Linked DNA regions of Homo sapiens: region 2 is linked to region 1. The links come from fine-mapping of genetic effects on gene expression. A gene starts in region 1. The other region holds a variant in brackets. All regions are shown on one strand. Distances are between the middles of the regions. Region 1 holds the start of ACLY (ATP citrate lyase). Region 2 holds the start of LOC124904005 (a long non-coding RNA gene).

Evidence for each region. PIP is the estimated chance that this variant, and not a neighbour inherited with it, causes the effect. A credible set is the group of variants that fine-mapping cannot tell apart.
Region 2: its variant is the best candidate, but not a certain one, in a credible set for the expression of ACLY in tibial nerve (GTEx, PIP 0.50).

The regions. Positions count from the first base shown.
Region 1 is chr17:41,915,965-41,921,327 of GRCh38, reverse strand. ACLY (ATP citrate lyase) reads left to right here and starts at 2,377. Exons shown (of 29, transcript NM_001096.3): 1 at 2,377-2,448. RefSeq lists silencers at 1,995-2,254, 2,735-2,974.
Region 2 is chr17:41,892,618-41,897,980 of GRCh38, reverse strand. It overlaps ACLY (ATP citrate lyase), which reads left to right. Exons shown (of 29, transcript NM_001096.3): 13 at 142-232; 14 at 1,332-1,361; 15 at 4,807-4,948. It overlaps LOC124904005 (a long non-coding RNA gene), which reads right to left and starts at 4,796. Exons shown (of 2, transcript XR_007065757.1): 1 at 2,593-4,796; 2 at 2,215-2,258. RefSeq lists a silencer at 4,238-4,438. The variant C/G (reference allele first, on the strand shown) is at 2,512.

The sequences.
Region 1 (5,363 bases):
TTATTTTTTTGTTTTGTTTTGTTTTGTTTTGAGACGGAGTCTCACTCTGTGGCCCAGGCTGGAGTGCAATGGCACGATCTCTGCTCACTGCAACCTCTGCCTCCTGGGTTCAAGCAATTCTCCTGCCTCAGCCTCCCAGGTAGCTGAGATTACAGGCACCCGATACAGTGCCCAGCTAAATTTTTTTTTTTTTTTTGCTTTGAGATGGAGTTTTGGTCTTGTTGCCCCCGCTAGAGTGCACTGGTGCGATCTCGGCTCACTGCAACCTCCGCCTCCTGGGTTCAAGCGATTCTCCTGCCTCCGCCTCCTGGGTTCAAGCGATTCTCCTGCCTCCGCCTCCTGGGTTCAAGCGATTCTCCTGACTCAGCCTCCTGAGTAGCTGGGATTACAGGCACCTGCCACCACGCCCAGCTAATTTTTTGTATTTTTAGTAGAAACAGGGTTTCACCTGTTGGCCAGGCTGGTCTGGAACGCTTGACCTCGAACTCAGGTGATCTACCCACCTAGGCCTCCCAAATTGCTGGGATTACAGGCATGTGAATCACCACGCCCGGTCTTTTTATTTTTTGTAGAGATTTGATGGTGGTGGTGGGGGCTCTTACCATGTTACCCAGGCTGTACTTGAACTTCTGGGCTCTAGCAATCTGCCTGACTTGGCCTTCCAAAATTCTGGGATTACAGGCATGAGACAGCATGCCTTGCCTGGAGTGTATCTTTTTTTTTTTTTTTTTTTTTTTGAGATAGAATCCTTCTCTGTCACCCAGGTTGGAGTGCAGTGGTGCAATCTCACCTCACTGCAACCTCCACCTCCCGGGTTTAAGCGATTCTCATGCCTCAACCTCAAGAGTAGCTGGGATTTATAGGCGTGTGCCACCATGCCTGGCTAATTTTTGTATTTTTTGTAGAGATGGGGTTTTGCCTTGTTGGTCTTGAACTCCTGACCTCAAGTGATCCCCCACCTTGGCCTTCCAAAGTGCTGGGATTACAGGTGTGAGCCACCAAGACTGGCCACCCCCATTTTAGGACAAGAGAAGAGAGGTGATAAGGAACTGCTATTTCAAAAAGATGAATGGGAGGGAAGGGACCAGAAAGTGACATCATCAGGGAACACTTGATTCAGGCATGGGTAGCAAGTTCAGTTACCTTACTCCTGGCAGCAACAGGATTGGGGGAGGGGGTCTTGGAGAAGATTTTGTCTGCAAATGTCGCAACACTGTTGCAGTGTGAGTATGACCCAAAGTGCTTGGCAGGGGGACAGGCCTGCTGCTTCCCTGCATTCTGGGCTGACCTCTTCACCTGAGTCGGTCAGTGGACGCTTTTGGCCTCCTTCCTGGAGCTAGACAGCTGTTAGGCTTAGGGAGCAGCTCCGGACCTACAGGGTTGGGGTGCAGGTAGGGAGGGAGGCTGCAGCATGTCAGAGTGGTAAATACATGTCCTGATTTCCAGGACTGATTTCACATATTCTGCCCCACAAGTTCACCAGCACCTGTCAGATTGGATGTCCCAGTTTTTGGTTTGGAAAATTCGATCTGTCTCAGGTAATGGAGAAGGGGGAGACAGCAGTTCATTCATTCCAGTGTCTAAGCCTGTGGTTGGTGGGAACAAGAGACTGTCTGGGATGGCTCCAGCCCTTCGCTGGAATCTCGCATTGAATTCCTAGCTCCGCCCTGATCCGTGCTGAGGCGAGCAGGTGAGTGGGACGGACAGCGCTGTGCCTGCACCCTCCTAGCCCCACTTGCTTACCGCGGCCCCTGCCTTATCCCACACTGGGAAGTATGCTCTGTTAGCCTCGGCTCAGCCTTGCCTCATCGGCCCAGTGGGGAGAGTCCAGGGAGGAGAGAGGCTCCACGTGCTAAAGGAAAGCGGCCTGCCAGACACTGCTGCTTAAGGAGACTGTCTAAGCAATCGGATTCGGTGCGGCCGAGATGCAGACGTCCGTTTCTCCCAAGGGAAGGAGCAAGGGTACTCCAGGTCCCAAAGCTGCGTTACAGCCAGTTGGGCTAATCCTACCCGCCCCTCCCCCAACTCCCCGAGTGGCAATCTGTCCAGCCCCTCAAGCGATCAGGCCACAACCCCCAGCACCGCGCGTTCTCCTCCCAGCCTAGCCCGGCCCATCTCCCCACCCGGGGCCCCGCCCCGGCCCCGCAGGCTCCCAAGAGGCGGTGGATGGGCCAGCGGGACTACAAGTCCCAGCAGGCCCCGGGGCCCGCCCTCGTGGGGCGGAGCCAAGCCAGCAGCGAATTGGGAGGAGCCCTGGCGCTCAGGCTAGGGAACGCGTGTGGCCAATCGCGGGGCCGTTCTCGCCGCGAGCCGATGGGGGCGGGGAAAAGTCCGGCTGGGCCGGGACAAAAGCCGGATCCCGGGAAGCTACCGGCTGCTGGGGTGCTCCGGATTTTGCGGGGTTCGTCGGGCCTGTGGAAGAAGCGCCGCGCACGGACTTCGGCAGAGGTGAGCACGGGAGGCTGTTTTCGCTGGCTGGAGCCCGCTCGCCCTAGGAGCTTCCTGCCTCCGTCCCCCAACCCGGAACCGCCTTCCCCGACGCGGGCTCGGTGCCCACGCGCCCTGCTCGGAAGTTTTGAGGGTCTTAGCTTTAGGTTAGCCTTCGCCCGGGGTCCCGGCCGGTGGCCGCGTGTCGACGCCCCTCCCCTCCCCCCGCGCGACACACACATATTCCAGTTCCTGGGAGTTTGCATGGGGCTTGCCGCCATCCTTGCCTCTTCTGCCTCTGCCACATTGCATGGTCCCCCTCCTGGCGCGCCTCACCCCTCCCGGGCACAGCTATCGAGGCTCCTCGGGCTCATCGGGACGCCTTTTGGCTCCATCCGGGTTCCCCCATCGGATGCCGGGACGGGAAGTAGAGAAAGCGGTGGCGACTGGTCCCACTCCGATTCCTCACTGGCCGGGCTCAGGCCCTTCTTGGTTCCGTGGGTACAAAATTGAGCTCCACGCCCAAGTGGAGAGAATGAGCTATGCGCGCCTCCGGGGCGGGCCACGCGGGGCCAGGCTGCCCCAGGGTGCCCGAGGCCTCGCCTCGTCTCGCCGCGAGGACTGGAATCTCGCAGCAAGGACCCTCCTCGCACTGGAGGTATCGTCGAGTCCAGCCCCTAAGTGACAGATGGCCGGGGTGCCACCCCACCCTTGAGCTGACGCCAAGTCTGGCCGGGGAAAGGTCCTCAAGGGGCTGGAGGATGCTGCCGCCGCCCTCCTGTCGAGCCTGGCAATGGGCCAGTCCCAGCGCCTGCCGCGGTCTCCAACCTTGGCAGATACCGTGCAGTGCCGAGTTCTGCCGTTATGGGGTCCCTGGAGGTCTTCCTGGGAAGAGGATTTTGGAAGAGACGATAAGGAAAAGTGCACAGCACAGTTTGGCCAGCTAGCCTACTCCTCTCCACCCTTAACTTTCCTCTGTGTTTTCAGCTGGCTCAGCTGAACTAAAATGTGGGGTGAGGGACAGCTGGTAGGTCTCATTTGCCCAGATGGGTGATTTTCACCTCTTAGAAACCTTCCTAAACAGCTTGGGGGGCGGTAGTGGGAAGACCCCTCAGACACTGGACAGCTTATGGCTCCATCCCCGTTCTGACACTATGCCTGCCGCAGTAAGGGGCACTCACAGAATTCTGCCTCTCTAGAATTTACTCCAGGGATTGCCTGTCTTCTCAAAAAATAAATAAATAAATACCTACATACGTAAGTCCCAATCCTGCAGATACTAACCTTCAAATGAGTGTTTTTGTCTTTCCCAGAGGCACCCTTAGTAGCATCCCCAGTGATTCCCTTCCCCTGGCTGTGTCCCAGGGGCGTGTTCTGGGGAACAGGCTTCTTTCATTCAGCCTCCTGTGTGGGCTGCTTCTCTCAGTGTCTGCTAAAAGTGAACTCAATCCTGGGTCACTCACCCGTCTGCAGAAAGACTCCATTCAGCTCATAAGGCCCCTCCCTTAGAGAATGTGTGTATGTGTGTGTTTTCAGGTTCCTTGGCATGATTTCCCCCAAATGGTTTACACATTTAGCTGTTACCAAGTAACAGTTCCTGGAGTCCAAGCTCAGCCCAATCATCTGTTACTTGTTTGACAGCACATTCAGCTACTGGGGAGGCAGACTAAGACGTTCTGGGGAGCGGTCCCAAACCCAGATAGGTATTTGTAGGTATTTGCTGATTCCACTAGAGCAAATATTCTTTTTTTTTTTTTTTTTTTTTTGAGACAGAGTCTTGCTCTGTCGGCAGGCTGGAGTGCAGTGGTGGATCTCGGTTCACTGCAACCTCCGCCTCCTGGGTTCTAGCGATTCTCCTGCCTCAGCCTCCCCAGTAGCTACAGGTGTGCACCACCACGCCCGGCTAATTTTTGTATTTTTAGTAGAAACAGGGTTTCACCATATTGGCCAGGCTGGTCTCAAACTCCTGACCTCGTGATTTGCCCTCCTTGGCCTCCCGAAGTGCTGGGATTACAGGCGCAAGCCACCGTGCCTGGCCGCAAATGTTCTTAACTGGTGGTCAGTCTGTGGGCCATCGGATCATTGTCACAGGTGAGCACCTTGAAACAATATGCACAATTGGATTTGTGTACCTTTTTCTGGGGTTTTTTTCAGTCTCAGAAGAGTCTGAGGCCTCAAAGAGGTTAAGAGCCACTGCCTTAGAGAGACTTTAAGACCTCACTGAAGGCCGGGCGTGGTGGCTCATGCCTGTAAATCCCAGCACTTTGGGAGGCTGAGGTGGGTGGATCACGAGGTCAGGAGTTCGAGACCAGCCTGACCAACATGGTGAAACCCCGCCTCTACTAAAAATACAAAAAAAATTAGATGGGCGTGGTGGCGTGCATCTGTAATCCCAGCTACTCAGGAGGCTGCGGCAGGAGAATCACTTGAACCTGGGAGGCTGAGGTTGCAGTGAGCCGAGATCACTCCACTGCACGCCAGCCTGGGCGACAGAGCCAGAGTCCTTCTCAAAAAAAAAAAAACAAAACAAAACAAAAAAACAGAAGACCTCACTGAACCACTAAAGTTGCGATTTATCTCTACTGAGTCCACTCCCTGGGTTTGTGAGCCATTTGCCTTCTCTTTATTGGTGAATTTGCAGAGGCCTTATTTTTATTATGTTGTATACATTCCTTGTCTCAACCTCCCGTCTCTAAGCCAGAATGCTCTAGTGGCAAATCTCTTGTTTTCTATCCTGTATTATCCCATTGTGTCTTCTCTCCTATCCCCCTTCCAAAGACCCTATGGAGATGGGCTCTTGGACCTGAAATTTGATCTGGGTCTCAAGAAAACTGTGATTTCTCAGCTGCAGGGGTCCATTTTTTCTCCCTTGTCCTTTCCAAAGTTGGGTCTTGTGTCTGTTTTGGAGGTGCCAGGTTCAGGGGACTGTTTTACTG
Region 2 (5,363 bases), 23 kb after region 1:
TAGTACTTTTGGAAGCAGCTTATAAAGAGCATTGCTGTGCATAATTTTTATTACGAGTTTTCTTTGGGGCCTTTAAGGACCAGTGGCTTTTTTCCCAGGTGTGACTCTTACCTCTTACACTCTCTCCTTATCTCACCCCAGACGCCAGCCCCCAGCAGGACAGCATCTTTTTCTGAGTCCAGGGCCGATGAGGTGGCGCCTGCAAAGAAGGCCAAGCCTGCCATGCCACAAGGTAACTCCCTGAGGCTTCAGGCATGTTGCAGGGAGTGGCCTTGCGGTACCCTCTGTATCTCTCTCCCCTTTCCCTTTCCCCCCTGGGCTGGCAGAGGCAGATGAACAGCGGTTTGGGTTTTGCAATGGGAGTGCACCTGGGACACGAGGATGGTATGACTTGAGCCTTCCCTGTGGGCGCTCCTGAGGCAGAGGACCCACGCCGTGCCTGGTCGCCTCAACTCCCCCTATTCTCTTCTACCCCTGGTTCTTCTTATGGGGGTGTGGACTGGGCAGGGAGGCTGTGGAGGAGATAGGGTTACAGAAATCCCAGGAAGTGGAAAGTTCTCTGAGACTCTTCTCCTGAGTGGAGGGCAGACACCGGGACCCCAGGACGGCAGAGCCAGCTCATACAACAGCAGTTCCCAGGCCACCCCCACCATCTTGGGGCCCTAACAGACATTCCCTCCTTTGAATCCCCAGCAAGAAAAGCCCCCGCCTGTCAGCCCATCTGTATTTCAACTAATTTTTCTCTCCGTGTAGATGTGATTCCTGCCGGCCAGCCCTTGCAGCCAGCTCTACATAAGTGGTGTTAGTTACCCCTGGGCTGGTATACCTGTGCAGCCTCTTCCTGGGACACACTTTGCTATGGCATTTTGGAAAATAGTGACACTGTCCCAAATCAGCATCCTTGTCCATGGCACGGGTCAACCCCATGCTGGCCAATCATCTCATAGTGTTTCATGGAGACAAAAAGGGATTGGCATTAAGAGGGTGGGACTGCGCCAGCTAGAGAGCCCAGAGTTCAAGTCATCCAGCTGTCCCTGCAGAGGGCCTGGGGGAGGCGCTGGTGTTGAGCACATCTGCCCAGCCTTTGTCCTCCTCCTGCCCCCTCTCTGCCCGTTTGGTCTTTGCTCTTTCTTGCTTCCATTCTGCTCATCGGTGCTTTCACCTCTTCTGCTGGCCTTACTCCGTTGTCCATTGCAGAACAGGAGAGGGATGATGAGGGCTTTAGCCCTGAAAGGCTTGTCCATGGGACCCTTCCCTGTTCCCACCCTCTCCCTCCAAAGCCTCCAGCCATCAGTGGGTCACTCAGTTGCCTTGGTCATTTTCTTTGACAGATTCAGTCCCAAGTCCAAGATCCCTGCAAGGTAGGATGCCCCCACCCTGCCCCCACTCCGCGTGTGGCTTTGTTAGCGGGTGACAGTTTTACTGTGTGCTCTGTTTCCCCCTCCCCTGGTGGGTTGCAGTGTCGTCTGGTCTATTTTCTGTCCCTGCCTTGATGTGGCCTGACCCCAAGTCCTAAGTCTTCGCTCTTCCTCCCCTCCTATCCGTGCTCAGTACGCGCCCCACTCAGTCCTCTCCTCACTGTGTGGCTGTTTCTGGCTCCAAGCTTGGGAAGGGGTAGAGATTTTGGAAGGAGCAAGAGCCAGACCCACAGCCCTGGAGAGTGTAGTGGTGTCAAGGAGAGAGTGTCGCCTGGGAAGGAGGGAGCCATCCAACTAAATGGGGAGTGGCAGAGAGTCGTGGGCGTCTGTCACTGCTGGGGTGCAGAAGGGGAGCCACAAGTCACCCCTGCTTCTCATTTACATCTCCTGATGTCATTTTCCCACCTTTCCTGCCTCGGCTTCACCACTGCCAGCTTCATCCTCAAGCTCCAGGGACCAGTTTATCTTTTTCTGGGGTTGTGGTGGAGGAACAAAAGAGGTGAAGAAGGAGGTAGACGGAAGCGCAGAAGGGTGTGCAGCGGATCTAGTGACTGGGTAATTGGAAGGGGTATGAGCTTTGTCTGGTGTATGAGGTCACATTTTACAGTGGATACTTCTGTGCATGCGCATTCACCCACCAGCCTAGCTGAGTAGATTAATTGGTTCATGGCATCAGAGCGTCCATTTAACTTTGACATTCACAGCCGTGGAGGCGGGGAAGTCTTTGTTGTCCCCTTGCTAAGGGGAGGGGAAGGAGTAATTGGCAGGGTCGATAACCAGCTGGAAAGGCCTGGAATGCAGCACTGTGGCCACCTGGCTTTAATCCTGATGTTTTTGCCTCTGGAAAAAGTTAAGAGCAGAGTGAGCCCAGTGTGGAAAGAACAGGGACCAGCCCTGGTTCTCCAGGAGCTCTCTGTGCTCTGAAGGGGAGGAGGGTTATGAGGAGGGGGGTTATCCTTGTTACTTTCTGGAGTGAGAGAAATAAAAGGAGGGTGTGTCAGGGAGAACAGATTATGGCTGAGCGAGCCCTCCCCTCAGCGAGGCCAGAGGAGGCCTGGTGTAGGGGGCATAGCCCCTGGCACAGAGGTTCTCT[C/G]TGGAGCCTCTCTGCTGCTGGTGGGCTGAGGATACACCCTTCAGCTTTGGTTTCTCTGTGCTTGAGGAAGGGCCACTTTACCTCCACCCTTCCTGCTGGAGATGCTGGTAGGTTGGTAGATTCCAGGCTTTGTCTTGATTTCTGTAGCTGGCAGGGTAGATAGATCAGAGGCATGTGCACGTGCGTCACCTGGCGGGGGTGACATGATGCAGGCTTCCCCTGAGGATGGCGGGTCATGAACTCACACTTATATTCTCCCTCCTCACTTTCACAGTTGAGCTGCATTTTAAGTGATTGTGTAATCCTGGCTCTGATGCTGGATGACCTCGGACCTCAATCATTTGGCATCTCTGGGCTTCAGTTTCCTAGGACTGGGAAGTGGGAGAACTGGATTAGGTGGCTCCCCTTGTTCTGTGATCTCATGTCTCAGCAGAACCCGGGGGGTCTAGGTGACAGTAAATCCCAGGTATTTGCAACATCAGGAACCTTCTGTCATGAGAAGCTGTAAGGCTGTGATGGAAGAGGCAGGCCTGTACAGGGATTTAATGAGACCATGAACTTGGTTAGCCAAGCCTGCTCTAGTACAGTAGGTTAATTAATACGAGATGCCACTGGGCTAGATGCATCATTCTTCCTAGGGGAGCTCAGAACCTCCCTGAGGGCTGCTTTCCTCCTCTTGGACTTGCAGGGACCCAGAGGGGAAAGTCAACTGCCTGAAGCGTGGTAAAAGTCCTTTCCCTTTAGGCTAAGGACTGCACTTTTTTCTTTTTTTTTTTAAATATACTTGCTGCATTAAAATTTTCTTTTTAAAATTTTTGTGGGTACATAGTAGGGGTGCATGAGATATTTTGGTACAGGCGTGCAATGCGTAATAATCGCATCATGGAAGGTTTTTCTTTGTTGTTTTTTTTTTTGAGGTGGGGTCTCACTATGCCGCGGTGGCTGGTTTCGAATTCCTGGGCTCAAGTGATCCTCCCATCTCAGTCTCCTAAGTAGCTAGGACTCAAGCACGCACCACTATGCCCACCTAGAGAACTGCACTTCTACCAGCTCCTTTTGTTCCCTTACCCTTTTTTTTTTTTTTTTTTTTTTTGAGACAGGGTCTCACTCTGTGGCCCAAGCTGGAGTGCAGTGGTGCGATCTTGGCTCGCCGCAACCTCTGCCTCCTTGGTTCAAGTGATTGTGTGTTGGTTTCCCAAGAAGCTGGGATTACAGGTGCATGCCACCACGCTAATTTTTTTTTTTTTTTTTTTGAGATGGAGTCCCGCTCTGTCACCTGGGCTGGAGTGCACTGGCACGATCTCGGCTCACTGCAACCTCTGCCTCCCGGGTTCGAGCGATTCTCCCTGCCTCAGCCTCCTGAGTAGCTGGGATTACAGGTGTCCACCCCACCACACCCAGCTAATTGTTGTATTTTTATTAGAGACAGCGTTTCACCGCGTTGGCCAGGCTGGTCTTGAACTCTTGAGCTCAAGTGATCCACTGGTCTCAGCCTCCCAAAGTGCTGGGATTACAGGCGTGAGCCACCACACCTGACCTGCGCCTTACCTCTTAAGTGCCCACTGGAGGGTCTGTCCAAGAGCACTGTCCTGAGCAGGAAAGAGCCACCTGGTAGAAGGGAGAAGGACAGGAAAAACAGGAGAGCAGGTTGAGGGCACTGGCCCTGTGTAACTAGCTTGCTGCTCCTGCCTTGTGCAGAGCCCTGGCCAGAACCACAGTTAGCGATAAGGCTGCTGTGTCCTCAGCCCCGGCTGCACAAACCTCTTCTTTGGACCTACACTGACCTAGAATTCATGCTGATTCAAACCCTGACTGGAGCTGGTTTTATGTCCAGATTTACAGGGTAATAAGCATTGTTGGAACATAAGTCCTGAACCCACCAAAATTGGGCGAGCTAAGCATTTTTTTCCAATGACTTTAAAAATAATTTGTTAAGACCTCATTTGCATATAAGCTGATGACACACCTTGCCTGGGAAATGAAGCAGGTCCTATAGGAATTATCCTGGGCATCTTTGACTGTGGGGCCCTTCTTTCTCCATTCTTTGCAGAGCTACTTACCAGCTAGCAGGCCCTCTTAGCTTGATTTGCTCTTTCTGCCACCTTCTTCCAGAAAAATCGAGGCACCTCCTCCCCAAGTTCTCAGAATTCTGTCCTCTTGACATTCCTTTACGGTTGTGATGAGGCATCACCCTGTGGACATGGGGCGTGGAGGGGTCTGTCAGGCAGCCCTGGCCCCTGCAGGTCTCCTGGGGGTATGTGTTCTGGGTGCACTCTCTGTGTCTTTGCCCACCAGGAAAGAGCACCACCCTCTTCAGCCGCCACACCAAGGCCATTGTGTGGGGCATGCAGACCCGGGCCGTGCAAGGCATGCTGGACTTTGACTATGTCTGCTCCCGAGACGAGCCCTCAGTGGCTGCCATGGTCTACCCTTTCACGTGAGTTACCCCATGGCGGGAAATATCTCCTTCCTCTGCTAAGACAAAGCTTGGGGCTGGGCACAGTGGCTCATGCCTGTAATCCTAGCGCTTTGGGAGGTCGAGGTGGGAGAACTGCTTGAGCCCAGGAGTTTGAGACCAGCCCTGGGCAACATAGGGAGACCCCCATCTCTACAGATAATTTAAAAATTAGCCGGATATGGTGGTGTGCACCTGTAGTCCCAGCTACTTGGGAGGGTGAGGCAGGAGGATTGCCTGAGCCTTGGAGGTTGAGGCTGCAGTGAACTCTAATTATGCCACTGCACTCCAGCCCGGGTGACAGAGCAAGAACCTGTCTCAAAAGAAAAAAAAAAGGCAAGGCTTGAGGAGTCAGTGAGCTCATTCCCTTTGCTGGGGAAGGCTTTGCCCATCCTAG